Homo sapiens: one gene and its partners. The protein of the gene in region 1 purifies or fractionates together with the protein of each later gene. This does not show direct contact. Each region holds a gene or a part of one and is shown in the gene's direction. Other genes may lie near its edges.

What was found.
Region 2: the proteins of CLCN2 (region 1) and YJU2 purify together in Homo sapiens (affinity purification with mass spectrometry; one large-scale study listed by BioGRID and IntAct). This does not show direct contact.
Region 3: the proteins of CLCN2 (region 1) and C1orf52 purify together in Homo sapiens (affinity purification with mass spectrometry; one large-scale study listed by BioGRID and IntAct). This does not show direct contact.
Region 4: the proteins of CLCN2 (region 1) and SRSF8 purify together in Homo sapiens (affinity purification with mass spectrometry; one large-scale study listed by BioGRID and IntAct). This does not show direct contact.

The regions. Positions count from the first base shown.
Region 1 is NC_000003.12:184,351,588-184,355,135, reverse strand, and holds part of CLCN2 (chloride channel protein 2), read left to right. Parts: intron 1-162; coding exon 163-232; intron 233-421; coding exon of another isoform or gene 422-477; coding exon 478-588; intron 589-821; coding exon 822-1,035; exon of another isoform or gene 1,036-1,036; intron 1,037-1,340; coding exon 1,341-1,474; intron 1,475-1,713; coding exon 1,714-1,886; intron 1,887-1,988; coding exon 1,989-2,103; intron 2,104-2,325; coding exon 2,326-2,399; intron 2,400-2,639; coding exon 2,640-2,693; intron 2,694-2,804; coding exon 2,805-2,843; intron 2,844-3,018; coding exon 3,019-3,123; intron 3,124-3,346; coding exon of another isoform or gene 3,347-3,439; exon of another isoform or gene 3,440-3,548. UniProt on the Homo sapiens protein: Voltage-gated and osmosensitive chloride channel. Forms a homodimeric channel where each subunit has its own ion conduction pathway.
Region 2 is NC_000019.10:4,266,825-4,269,627, forward strand, and holds the end of YJU2 (splicing factor YJU2), read left to right. Parts: intron 1-799; coding exon 800-950; intron 951-1,759; coding exon 1,760-1,872; 3' UTR 1,873-2,264; downstream 2,265-2,803.
Region 3 is NC_000001.11:85,253,124-85,256,671, reverse strand, and holds part of C1orf52 (UPF0690 protein C1orf52), read left to right. Parts: intron 1-3,548.
Region 4 is NC_000011.10:95,065,573-95,069,757, forward strand, and holds the start of SRSF8 (serine/arginine-rich splicing factor 8), read left to right. Parts: upstream 1-1,346; 5' UTR 1,347-1,654; coding exon 1,655-2,503; 3' UTR 2,504-4,185. UniProt on the Homo sapiens protein: Involved in pre-mRNA alternative splicing.

The DNA.
Region 1 (3,548 bases):
CACCTGGGAGGCCTGGGGGTCCCAGGGTAGCTAGGAGGGTTACGGGGTGGCTGGGAGGGTTACGCCCACCTGATCAGCGAGGTAGACTTCTCCTGGGTGGCGCTGTGGGCTGCCTGGGGCCAGGTGGAGCCTCTTCGCCTTTGAACCACCCCCTGCCTGCAGTTCTGGATGTCTGCACTGGCCACCACCATCCCAGTTCCCTGTGGGGCCTTCATGCCTGTCTTTGTCATTGGTGAGTTCTCAGCTGCCTGCTCACCCAGCCTGCACCTTCCTCAGCCTCTGGCCACCCCCCCAGCCAACCCTCTGCCCAAGAGCGGGTTTTTGGTCCAGCCCTAGCCCGAACCCTGACCCCACAGGGCTGTGCCCTACACTGAATGACCCGTTGGCCCCTCCCTCACCCTCTGACCCTCTCTCTTCCTAGTGCCCCCTGCCCTCCCCCTCCACTGCCTCTTTCTCTTCCCACCCCCCTCCCTGAAGGAGCAGCATTTGGGCGTCTGGTGGGTGAAAGCATGGCTGCCTGGTTCCCAGATGGAATTCATACGGACAGCAGCACCTACCGGATTGTGCCTGGGGGCTACGCTGTGGTCGGTGAGTGCCTCAGGTCCCATCGGCCTTGGGAGACCCCCCCACCCACGCCCCAGCCACAGGGTCCGAGACTCTGGTGCCCCCTGCTGGCAGAAACCAGGCTTCCCTCAGATGCACAGGTCCAATCCCAGGACTGTATTGGGCAGCCCTGAGGGACCCACTCAGGACCTGCCCTGGTTGTGGAGGGTCTTCTGGGACCTGGGCACCCTGAGGAGACTGAGTGTGACTGTCCCCAGGGGCAGCTGCGCTGGCAGGAGCGGTGACACACACAGTGTCCACGGCTGTGATCGTGTTCGAGCTCACAGGCCAGATTGCCCACATCCTGCCTGTCATGATCGCCGTCATCCTGGCCAACGCTGTCGCCCAGAGTCTGCAGCCCTCCCTCTATGACAGCATCATCCGAATCAAGAAACTGCCCTACCTGCCTGAGCTCGGCTGGGGCCGCCACCAGTACGGAGGGCTGGGTGCCAAGGGGGCTGTGGGTGAAGGGCAGAGGGCATCCTAGATCCCCCTACAGCCACCTCTAGCAAGGTCCTGGAGCCTACGAAGCTGGGAGATGAGCCACCTTCGTCCACACTCTGGAGGGGCTGTAGCTGGCCCCTGCTGTTCAGAAAGAAGGGTGGGAGCACCCCTTGGTCCTTAGCTCCCGTCCCCATGGATGGGCTCTGGAGCCCTCCTTGTGGCCCTGGGATGGCAATGCTCTGGGCACCTCTCCCCATGCTGACCACAAACCAAGCGCCTCTCTCGGCCCCCAGGCAGTACCGGGTGCGTGTGGAGGACATCATGGTGCGGGATGTTCCCCATGTGGCCCTCAGCTGCACCTTCCGGGACCTGCGTTTGGCACTGCACAGGACCAAGGGCCGAATGCTGGCCCTAGTGGAGTCCCCTGGTGAGGCCAGGAGGGGTCCCAGGTGCTAGGGGCATTGCCCAGGGTCGAAGCTTCGGGAAGGGGCAGGGAGCTCAGGACCAGTCTCCTTGGTTCCAAAGGGAATGGACCAGCACTTGCCAGGTGGGGGCTTCCCTCTGGTGTGTGGCCTGCATGCAAGGCCCCCCACTCTGAGTGTGAGAGAAGGACGGGGCTGGAGGGCTCCCTCTCAGCTCCTGAGTCCTTCCACCTGTTCTGTCCAGAGTCCATGATTCTGCTGGGCTCCATCGAGCGTTCACAGGTGGTGGCATTGTTGGGGGCCCAGCTGAGCCCAGCCCGCCGGCGGCAGCACATGCAGGAGCGCAGAGCCACCCAGACCTCTCCACTATCTGATCAGGAGGGTCCCCCTACCCCTGAGGCTTCTGTCTGCTTCCAGGTGAGGGGAAAAGCCACAAACGCTTCCTAAATGTCATTGTGTAGACTGATTGGGAGGGTGGTCTGGGGCCGTGGCCTCACCAGCCCCTTCCTGCCTATGCAGGTGAACACAGAAGACTCAGCCTTCCCAGCAGCCCGGGGGGAGACCCACAAGCCCCTAAAGCCTGCACTCAAGAGGGGGCCCAGTGTCACCAGGAACCTCGGAGAGAGTCCCACAGGTAAGCCCATGTCTCCTGTGTCCACAGAGCCTCAGCCAAGCTACTGAGATCCATTAGAGTCCCTGCCCAGCCCTGTTGCTGGGGTACATCCCAGCTGGAAGAGGCTGCCCACATGGGCCAGGGCTGGAACTGGGATACCTCTCCCTGTGTCTTCCTTACCTTTCCTGGTCCTCTCCCCAAAAGATGACATTGCCCCCTGGGGCCTTATGTTTGGGAACACAGGGAGCGCAGAGTCGGCAGGCATCGCCCTCCGGAGCCTCTTCTGTGGCAGTCCACCCCCTGAGGCTGCTTCGGAGGTGAGTGGCTGGAGCCTGTCCTCCTAGCTTGCTTTTTCCCCAGCTCCCTCTCCAATGCTGAGACCACGTCATTAACCCTGCAGTGCCTGCCTCTATTCTCCCTGCCCTTCGGCCCTCCCTGCTGTCAGCTCAGGTCCTGTGGCGTGCCCTTTCCCCTGGGCTCCACCACTTCCCCTCACCTCCCCTCTCCCTATAACCTCAACTCCTCATCTTTCTGGTTTGGCTCTAACAAAACTGAAGAAGTTGGAATCCTGTGAGAAGCGCAAGCTGAAGCGTGTCCGAATCTCCCTGGCAGTAAGTATGCCTGCTCTTCTAGCATCTCGGCGGCACCGGGCAGGGAGGGCAGGGTCTAGGCTGGATAAACTCCAGAGCCCCTAGCTGCCAGCCTCCCTCCCTCTCTACTAGAGTGACGCGGACCTGGAAGGCGAGATGAGCCCTGAAGAGGTAAGGTGCCACTGGACTCTGGACCCTGTTTCTTCCTGGTTGTGTTCAATCATCATGTTGGCTGCTGTCCCCATGGGAGGGACCACGGGGTTGGAAAAAGGGCAGGCCAGCTTTCAGGGAGGTGAGGTCAGCTACAGGCACCTTCTCCCTAAACCTCATAGTCTCTTCCCCTCAGATTCTGGAGTGGGAGGAGCAGCAACTAGATGAACCTGTCAACTTCAGTGACTGCAAAATTGATCCTGCTCCCTTCCAGCTGGTGGAGCGGACCTCTTTGCACAAGGTAGGGCCAGCAGCCTGGCCCAGGGCTGGTCTAGGCTCTCAGGACACAGTGGGGATCTTGGTCCCCCTACAAGTTTGGACTCAGGCCAGTGGGGAAGGAGGGAGGAGAAGGGAGTTGGCTCAGTGCGGAGATGTTTTTTAGACATACTGCTTGGATGATGGGAGGTGGGAGCAGCCTCCTCCTGCTCTGTGGTGGAGCCAGGCATCGTTTTTCCTCTGCTCAGCCTTGCCCTCGAGGGAACTCTGGACCAACGAAGCAACAAAGACAGGGATTGAGCTGGGTGGAAGCCAGAAGGCCAGGCCAGGGTCAGAGCTAGGCGGGAGGCCACCACAGCCCAGCAAGGTTGATACGCCCATGCGGAAAAAAACGGGTGAGAAACAGGCAGGATAAGAAAATGCAATAAACAAGCCAACAAACATCCAAGT
Region 2 (2,803 bases), on another chromosome or scaffold:
AAAAATGTTAGCCTGCCATGGTGGCGTGCACCTGCAGGAGGCTGAGGCAGGAGAATCGCTTGAGCCCAGGAGTTCGAGGCTGCAGTGAGCTATGATTGCACCACTGCACTCCAGCCTGGGCAATAGAGTGAGACCTTCCCCCCAAAAAAATTTTTTTAATAATATAGATTAAAGGGTCCCTTCTGTTGCAGTTAAGGAGCTGGAGGCCTTTTCTACCTGCCCCTAACTCTTTCTCAAGGCGGCTTCCTCCATTTTCACTCGTTCTCTCAAGTACATTGAGCACCTCCTTGTGCCAGGAACTGTTTGTGGCACCGCAGAGCCAGCAGTGGGGAAGACAGGAGCTCACGGCAGAGTTGGGGAGAGAGTTATAACAGCCAGCAGAGGGCACTGTGAGCGTGGACATGCAGCCTGCATGTGAGCTTGAACCATGATGGGCTTCTCAGAGGAGGGGTGTCTTGTGTTGGGTATTGAAGGGTGAGTAGGAGTTCACCAAGCGAGTGCATGGAAAAGGGGGCATCCCTGGTGAAGGGAATAGCATGGGTAAAGGCGTGGAGATGAGAAGCCATGGTGTGACTCAGGAAGTGCCAGACCAGGCTATGTGGGATGGAGAATGGGCAGAGGCCTTGAGTGCCAAGCCTAGGGCAGTGGGGAGCCATAGAGGAGTTTAGAGCAGAGGAGGAATGTGGTCAGTGCAGCAGTGGAAGAGTGGGCATGGGGCAGTGAGCAGGGGTTGTGGCGAGGGGCCAGACTGGGCCCTGGATCCGGGCCAGACCCCCACATGTGTCCCCATCACCTGCAGGCCCCAAAGCCCAAGAGGAAGGTGGAGGTCTGGGAGCAGAGCGTTGGCAGCCTGGGCAGCCGGCCCCCGCTGTCGAGGCTGGTCGTGGTGAAGAAGGCAAAGGCCGACCCGGACTGCAGCAACGGGCAGCCTCAGGCGGCCCCCACCCCAGGTAAGGTCACAGAGTTCCCAGAGCCGGGCGCGGTTTCTATAGTGGCCTGTAGGTGGCAGCAGCTCCCTTTGCAGTTACAGAGACTTCATGGGGTGGGTGGGGGCGGCCTGCGACCCCCACAGGACCAATTAGTGGAGTGAGCAGAGAAGGCAGGCGGCTTCTTTTTTTCTTTTTTCTTTTTTCTTTTTTTTTTTTTGAGACAGAGTCTTGCTCTGTTGCCCAGGCTGGAGTGCAGTGGTGCCATCTCGGCTCACCGCAACCTCCGCCTCCCTGGTTTGAGCAGTTCTCTGCCTCAGCCTCCCAAGTAGCTGGGACTACAGCACCACGCCCGGCTAAATTTTTGTATTATTAGTAGAGGTGGGATTTCTCCATGTTGGTCAGGCTGGTCTGGAACTCCCGACCTCAGGTGATCCACTCACCTCGGCCTCCCAAAATGCTGGGATTACAGGCATGAGCCACCGCGCCCGGCCTGTTTTTGTCTTTTAGTTGCCTTAGTATGATGTTTCCTAAGGCGATTAAGTCCACAGTGACTGGACTGTGAACTTTGCGCCATTTCCATTCTTGGCAGCGCACGTTGCCTGCCTGGGCAAGGTTTGCATTGGCCATTGTTCAGAAGCGGAGCTGTTGAGTCCCGGGTGTGCAGATGTAAATCTGCAATGGGTCCCATCAGGTGCCATCCAGAAAGGCCAGGCCATTCACATGCTGTCACCTCTGGACCTTGCAAACCTGCAGAGGTGGCCGGCCCCGTGCCTTGTCCCTGGCCTGTCTGCTGTGGAGCTGAGATGAGCTAACTCTCGCTCTCCCACCAGGAGCCCCGCAGAACAGGAAGGAGGCCAACCCTACACCCCTGACGCCTGGCGCGTCCTCCCTGAGCCAACTGGGTGCATACCTGGACAGTGACGACAGCAACGGCAGCAACTGAGCCCTCCCAGGACCCCCTCACGGGGTCAAAGTCACACGTCCAGCTTCAGCCACATTGAGGCCAGCATTGCTGGTGGTCAGGGCAGGAGGCCTTGGCGTGACTGGAGGCCGGACAGACAAGCGCCAGCGTGCTCCAACACATAGGGCCACCAGGGGCCTCAGCCCCAGGAGGTCCCTTCTCTGTGCCCTCACCAGCCTCTCAACACCTCGGGGACCCCTGCTGCTCCTGCCCCCACCTGTCACTGTGCTTAGGGCTGCAACATCCCTGGAGCAGCTTCCAACACTACTTCAGGGTGGCAGTGTTTGGGGCACTGGGCGAGCCTGCCGGCCTCTAGATGGCCTCATCTCTTCCTTCCACAAACTGTCTAGAACCAATAAAAGGAAACCTGCCAACCGCCTGGGCCCCTTCTCTCTCCCAGAGTCTGATGAGGAGGTCCCAGGACCTCCTCTGTTAGCACAATTCGAGGGTCATTCCACAGAGGTTTGTTTGTGTCTTGAGACAGGATCTCACTCTGTTGCCCAGGCTGGAGTGCGGTAGCGTATTCTTGACTCACTGCAGCCTTGAACTTCCGAGCTCAGGTGATCCTCCCACCTCAGCCTCGCGAGTCGCTGAGACCTCAGGTGGATGCCACCATTCCTGGCTAACTTTTTGTATATTTAGTAGAGACTGGGTTTCATCATGTTGCCCAGGCTGATCTTGAACTCATGGGCTCAAGTGATCCTCCTGCCTCAGCCTCACAAAGTGCTGGGGTCACAGGCATAAGCCACTGTAACAGGCATGAGCCCAGATATTTATATTTAGTTGTCGCCTGAGTGTGCATCTGGGCTCTTTTTGTTTTCTCTTCTTTTTTTTTTTCTTTCTTTACCTTTTTTTTTTTTTTTTTTTTTTGGAGACGACGTCTCGCTCTTGTCCCCCAGGCTGGAGTGCGATG
Region 3 (3,548 bases), on another chromosome or scaffold:
GCCTGCCATCACACCCAGCTAATTTTTTGTATTTTTAGTAGAGACGGGGTTTCACCGTGTTAGCCAGGATGGTCTGGATCTCCTGACCTCGTGATCTGCCCGCCTTGGCCTCCCAAAGTGCTGGGATTACAGGCGTGAGCCACCGTGCCCGGCCATTCCTTTTCATAATTAGTAAAAATATATTTGCTTAAATAATCTTTATTACAACACCTTGTGAAATAAGATAGAGAAATGTGGAAATGATAGCTTACATAACTTGTCCAAGGTCACAAACTAGAAAATGCCAAATTCTAAAATAGGCACTTTCACACAGTTTTCTAATTTATTACTCCGAGCAACCTGATACAGAAGTGCTACATGACTCATTATTACTGTTTTACAGATGATAAAACAATCTGAGATTAGGGACTTTACCCAAATTCATTCACGCAGCTAAAGAAGAGACAGAGTAGTAGGCATTCAAATCCAGACCTTTAAATAGAAATTATGCCTTATTAAACTGGGATTTGGTCTCCTGATGAATAGCCATTTCTCAACAGTGAGATATAGCTATTCTTCTGTAGGGCGAATGGCAGTAAAGATACTAGGGTTGATACTCAAACTAGATTTCCATAGGCTGGTGCTCTCACATCTTTGTAGTTATATGGAAAAAACCAGGATTATACACCAGGGCAAGCAAGCAAGAAAGAATTATCTTTTTCTAGCTTAGCTTTTGAGTTAAGTTAGAAGGAGTTCCAAATATGTGGCAGGTAACACTGCTATTCACATAGATAATTTCTGTCTTTTTGATCACATGATGGTCCTTTATTGGAAAACAAATACAGGCAAAATCAAATAACAGACCCATTTTTTAGAAGTGATTTTCAGATTCCTATAAAATCAATTATGTCATAATTTTTTAGCCTTTCTTTTTCATTCATAAAATATATATCAGAAACTCTACACTCTTACCCAGATTTTAGATTAGCAAGTGACTTTTTTATTTTGCTTCCCCATTCTGCCCTTTGGCCTTTTATTGCCGGTTAACGTCTTCCAGTTACTTTAGAGGAAGGGCTGGGAAAGGTTCAGAACTCATCATTGGGTCTTGCTGCTTATCAGCCCTTCGGGTTTTTTTTTTTTTTTGAGATGGAGTCTCGCTCTGTCGCCCAGGCTGGAGTGCAGTGGTGTGATCTCGGCTCACTGCAACCTCCGCCTCCCGGGTTCAAGCGATTCTCCTGCCTCAGCCTGCCAAGTAGCTGGGACTACAGGCACACGCCACCACGCCCAGCTAATTTTTGTATTTTTAGTGGAGATGGGGTTTCAGCATGTTGGCCAGGGTGGTCTCGATCTCCTGACCTCGTGATCCGCCCGCTTCAGCCTCCCAAAGTGCTGGGATTACAGGTGTGAGCCACCGCACCCTGCCACTTCTGGTTTTAGTGGTTGTAAAATGTAGGTAAGCAAAGCTTAGTTATTAGTTGTAGCTTTATTGACATGTATAATAATTAATTGTAAAAGCATAATTAATATAGTGATTTTTAGTTTACACTTTTTAGAATTTAGAAAGTTTGTCTATTGATAAGTTAAACTTACTTGAGTGATTTGAGTTCCATAATAAAAAAATTGTTTCCTTACCAGTACATCTATACTATATGAGACCGAGTAAAAAAGCTCAGTAAAATTGATAAATGAACATTGCTCAGATTTTTTCCTACTCTAGTTTATAAAGCAATGCCTTGTCATGACACTAGATGGCATAGCACTTCTGCTCAAATCACTGATAGCCAGTTACTTTTTAACTTCAGTAGTTTGTGGTTTTGTTATTCAGTTAATTTACTTGTAATAAGTGGCAAATTAAAAGCAAAAATATCTCAGTATCATCTAAATGTATGCTAATGCATAGTGAATATTATAGTAAACTTAGTACTTTCCATTTTTATATTATCACTACTGAAAATCTCAAAAGAGGAGCTTAGTGATAATTAACTCGTTAAAAAGCAAAAGGTGCCGGGTGCGGTGGCTCACGCCTGTAATCCCAGCACTTTGGGAGGCCGAGGTGGGTGGATCACGAGGTCAGGAGATAGAGACCATCCTGGTTAACACCGTGAAACCCCGTCTCTACTAAAAATACAAAAAATTAGCTGGGTGTGATGGCAGGCACCTGTAGTCCCAGCTGCTTGGGAGGCTGAGGCAGGAGAATGGCGTGAACCTGGGAGGTGGAGATTACAATGAGCTGAGATGGTGCCACTGCACTCCATCCTGGGCAACAGAGCAAGACTCCATCTCAAAAAAAAAAAAAAGCAAAACGTTTGGCTTGTTTTGGTGGTATACCATGTTATTTGGTTTGTGGAGCCAGTGTTTTTGTATGAACATGATGAACTACTGATTAAAACTTTGATTTGTAAATTCCTGGGGTGAGTTGATCTGAATTGTATTTTATTCCACTGCCTACATAAATCCATAGTGCTCTGTGAAGCATATGAATAACATCACCGTGCTGTGCTTGAAGGGGAGTGAAGATGAATGGTATTGATTGTTATCTGCATCAATAAATGAGATATTCTGATTATGGTACAGTCAGCAGAAGGGAATTGAAGGCTTAAGATTTTAATATTTCCTTCAAGGAATTTATGATTTGATGTCAGTAGTTCCTCACATTTTTTAATAATGAAGGCTCCTTTCAATATCAAGATATTTTATAGATCTCCACATGATAACCTGTTGAACTTTTTGAGTATCTGTTGATCAAGAAAATAAAGTCAAAAGCTACAATTAATTAGTAATGTGCTCAAAATAAATTTGTATTTTATAAATCATAACATCTTTTCCATGTTACTCTGTCTATATGGAGTTCTTAATACCACACATTTGCTTAGGGAGATGGAATTAGCAACTAGTCTGTGCTACCCTGTATTTTTTTTTTAACCATGTAGTTGGATTTTTTAAAATACAATAAAAGAGTTCACTTTTCCAGGTTTGACAACATTTTTATGAATTGGAAATTTTCTGTGGCTACAGATACTATTAACATTTTGGAAAGGTGTAAAGAACATTGTTTTAATGTAAGGCTCTTCTCTAACCTCCCTCCCCTCTCCAAATTCTCCATAATATGAAGTAGGAAGATATGTATTTTTCTGTTGCCATTAAAATGTTCTGGCCATCGTGGGAGTGGGGATGGGGAGGGCGGGGATGGGAATTAGAACTTACTAGAATAAAATTCCAAATAGAGGTTTGGGGAAACCTACTTGTGAGTGCTTTTTAACCTCAAAATAAGGATTTGGGGTGGGTGGAGAAGGTGATGGGGCAGAAGAAGTTGTTTTTGGAGGAGAGAAAGCAGATTGAAAGGAAAAGGACAGCTGATAGCCACTTAAATAATGTCATCGTTAGAGTGATACCTATTTTTTGTAAAAAGAAAACAATATGCTCCATTCTTACAAAGCATTGATTGTATTTTAATATATACAATGTAAATACTATCATGCAGTGGTGTCCAAGGGAGAGAATACAGTCATGAGTTCTTAGTTTCTGTTATTGGTTGGGCCAATAAAGCCCCTTCATCATCCTTCTTTTCT
Region 4 (4,185 bases), on another chromosome or scaffold:
GCCAAAAGTGGAAACAACCCAAGTGCCCATCAACAGCACAAACATTTATACCATTGAATGCCTTACGGCAAGGTAACAGGATCAAGTACAGCTACATGGAACACATAGATGAGGGAAATAAAACACAAAATACATTAAAATATAAAAAGCACAATTCTATGTATATAAGGTTACATAACATTTTCAAAATCAGCAACGTTTTAATTAATTTAATTAATTTAGAATTCTCCTGCAGAGGAGTTTTCTCTCTTTTCTCCAATGTGTTAATTTATTTAATCATTTATTTACAACAGCACAGATTAATATTTATTTTATATTTTGGAATATGATATAGTAGTATTTTAGTTTGTTCCTTAAATTGTTCAAGATTTGGCCATTGGGAGCTGTTTTATTGGTTTTTGTACCCCTCTAAAATTACCCCATCAATGCTTTTGTTTGTTTTCTATTTATCACATCCTTATTTTCCAGCACTCCAAGATGCTCTAGGCCCTTTCTGTATATTTCCTTTCCAGATTTAGAAACTGTATTTCTTCATCAGTATTGCTAGATTGTTTTTTTCTTTAAAAGTGTTAGATTTCAGTTTTATTAATCATCTTTTTAAAAAAACATATTGTCCCTTTTATTTGTAATTCTATTTTTATTTTAATGTTTTATTTTTTGTTTTGGTTTTGTTTTACTAATTGCTTGACTTCAACATAAAAAAAGTTTTAGAAATGTGGTTATTAATTTTCAAGTAAATATGATTGGATTCAGGTTTTTTATTTTTAACCTTCAATATTATTTCACTGAGGTCCAGATGTGCTGAATTTATTGACCTATTAAATTTTAATTGACATTTATTTTGTAGTCTTGTATTGGGAAATTCTTCTGTTTTCTATATATTTTTGGTTGTTGCAGGTTATATGATCAAAATTGTTGTTTGTTGTGCAAATTATTATAGCATTACTAGTTTTGTTCTCTGCACTATTGATTTCTGAGAAAACGGTGTTACGGGGAAAAAACAAACTTCCATCATGAGTGCAGATTTTTCAGTTTTACCTTATAACTCTCAGTCTTGGCTATGTGTCACTGTTATGTGTTTAGGTGCGTTAAGTTCATCACTGTAATGTTTTCCTAGTGAATTTTCTTTTCAATAACTATGAAATGTGCTCCTTTGATCCTATCAATACACTGGATATTAATATTGTTGCCCTAGGTTTCTTTTGTTTAATATTTGTCTGGATTGCCTGTTCCCATAAATTGACCTTTAATCAGTTAGCTTTGTTCTTAAGATTGGTTTAAAACGTAGAATAATAGGGAGGAGCATGGGAGGGTGGGACGTCTAATGTAAATCCAGCCCAGTGATTACATTAGCTGGGCGCTGATTAGGTTAGGATGTTGCCCAGGTACAAGGCCAGGATCTTCGGGGCCTGGCTTCATTTGGAGTTCAGCTACCAAAAGGAAACCTTCCTCTGGGTCCTGGAGTATTTGGCCTGAAATTGGGAACTCGGAAGTTGCTGCTCCAGGGCGCTCCCTGCGGAGCTCCGCCGCCCGCCTCTCCGCCCGGCCTTTCCCGGCGTCCCCACGCGGGGCGCAACCGCGAGAAAGAAACGCAGGTCGCACCGTCAGCGCCCAGAGCAGCGCCAGTTTCCGGGCCCGGGCTGCTCTCGGAGCCATGAGCTGCGGCCGCCCCCCTCCCGACGTGGACGGCATGATCACCCTCAAGGTGGACAACCTGACCTACCGCACCTCTCCCGACAGCTTGAGGCGCGTGTTCGAGAAGTACGGGCGCGTGGGCGACGTGTACATCCCGCGGGAGCCCCACACCAAGGCGCCCCGGGGCTTCGCTTTCGTCCGCTTTCACGACCGGCGCGACGCCCAAGACGCCGAGGCCGCCATGGACGGGGCGGAGCTGGACGGACGCGAGCTGCGGGTGCAGGTGGCGCGCTATGGCCGCCGGGACCTGCCCCGCAGCCGCCAGGGAGAGCCACGCGGCAGGTCCAGAGGCGGCGGCTACGGACGGCGGAGCCGCAGCTACGGGCGGCGGAGCCGCAGCCCCAGGCGGCGACACCGCAGCCGATCCCGGGGTCCCAGCTGCTCCAGGTCCCGCAGCCGATCTCGCTATAGGGGTTCTCGCTATAGCCGGTCTCCCTACAGCCGATCTCCTTACAGCCGGTCGCGCTACAGCCGCTCTCCCTACAGCAGATCTCGCTACAGGGAATCTCGCTACGGCGGATCTCACTACAGCTCATCTGGTTACAGTAACTCTCGCTACAGCCGATATCACAGCAGCCGGTCTCACTCGAAGTCTGGGTCCTCCACTAGCTCTCGCTCTGCATCAACCTCCAAATCGAGCTCTGCGCGACGATCCAAGTCCTCCTCGGTCTCCAGGTCTCGCTCGCGGTCCAGGTCTTCATCTATGACCAGGAGTCCTCCCCGGGTATCCAAGAGGAAATCCAAGTCAAGGTCGCGATCCAAGAGGCCCCCCAAGTCTCCTGAAGAGGAAGGACAGATGTCCTCTTAAGAAAATGATGCATCAGGAAGCAACGTGATGGAGGACTTGGGGGAAAAGGATCACATACTCAGTCTATGGAAGCAACGTCCCTGGAAGAAGAGGCTGCCTATTGAAAAGGTTGTGTCACACTTTTCTACCTTTTTGCCAGTTTGAAGCTTTGCATCAGGTGGCAAAATTCATTCTATGTGCCGTTTTGTTGTTATTCACATTTTATTGTAACTTAGGAGGTGAACGACCTAAGATTACGTTATTGGGTTTGGATATTTGAGGCAAAAATTTATTTTTATTTCTATAGTGATGACTGTTTTGGTTTGAAATGAACAGATTGGTAACCTAATTTGTGGCCTCCTGACTTTTAAGGAAACGTGTGCAGCCATTACACACAGCCTAACGCTGTCAAGACATGCTTCAACATTGCCTTCATTCCTTAAAAACCTACAAAAGGTGGTGTAAATTAATATGGATAATTTTATTTACCTCCAGGTCTAAAAGGTAGTGTGACCCAAATTTGTATAAAGATTTTTCATGTGAAAGGACTGGGGTTTTAGCAAACACAGGTCTAATCTCTTTTGTGTTTTTGTGCACCAGGCCCGGCTGCGTAGCAGTTGAGTGATGCTGGTTAGCTATTAAGGTGGCCTGTTGCAGTGCAGAGTGCTGAGCTGCTTCCTGTTTTCTTCTGATTGCTCCTGGGGAAAACACGCCTTGTCCTGAAGAACAAATGGCTGTCCAGTTTATTAAAATGCCTGTCAACTGCACTTCCAGTCACCCAGGCCTTGCAGATAAATAATGGAGCATGCAGTGAGCACATCTAGCTGACGATAATCACACCTTTTCCCCCGTCTTTTCTGAAAAATTGTAAATCTGATCATATCAACATGTATGAACTTAAAATATGGAGAATGTTATGGAAGAAATAGTTTATAAGTTTGTTAAGTACTTATAACATGGTTTATCTTTTTGATTATTAATTTTTTACGCTAACCATTGTTTCTGTAGTTAAAATTGTTTTCTTGGTGTTATCTTTTCTCAGAATAAAATTAGAAACTTTTGATGGAAAGTAGGTTGTTTTATTTTCTGTATGACTTTTGGATATTTGTACTTTTGAGAAAATTATTAGCACCAAGTGTTTCTCAAAATATAATTTTTAAAAAATCCTTAATAGGCTTTTAGCTATGTGCTTTATTGTTTTATCACAATGCAGTTTATTTGTAGTTTCTCTCTTTTTTCCTCACACCTATGGTTTTTTTACTTCCAAAATTATTTTCAAATAATCCATTTTTGGCTTTCATCATTATCCCTACTAGATGTTATGTGTTCTTTTGCAATTGTTTCTGCTTATACCTTTACTAGCAAAGGGAAAAATAACAATTTGGTGTCAATGATCTGGTGACAATAGGATTACATTGGAGCCAATTGAATAAATTTATTCTTTCAATCATATGGATCTTCATTAATATTTTTGACTGAATTATCAATTAAAAATATTTCATTCCCTTTGTGCAGAAACTGCTAAATCCAGGGTTCGATTCTTGAATGAACTGGCAAGGTGGCTGTGGTCTGTAGATATACATCCCACATTTTGTTGTTATAACAGTTAGTAGTTAGTATTGCTTTCATATATAGACTCCAGAATCTAAATTTTACGATAATGACATTTCTTCTGGTCATGACAAATGTAATATTTTACAAAT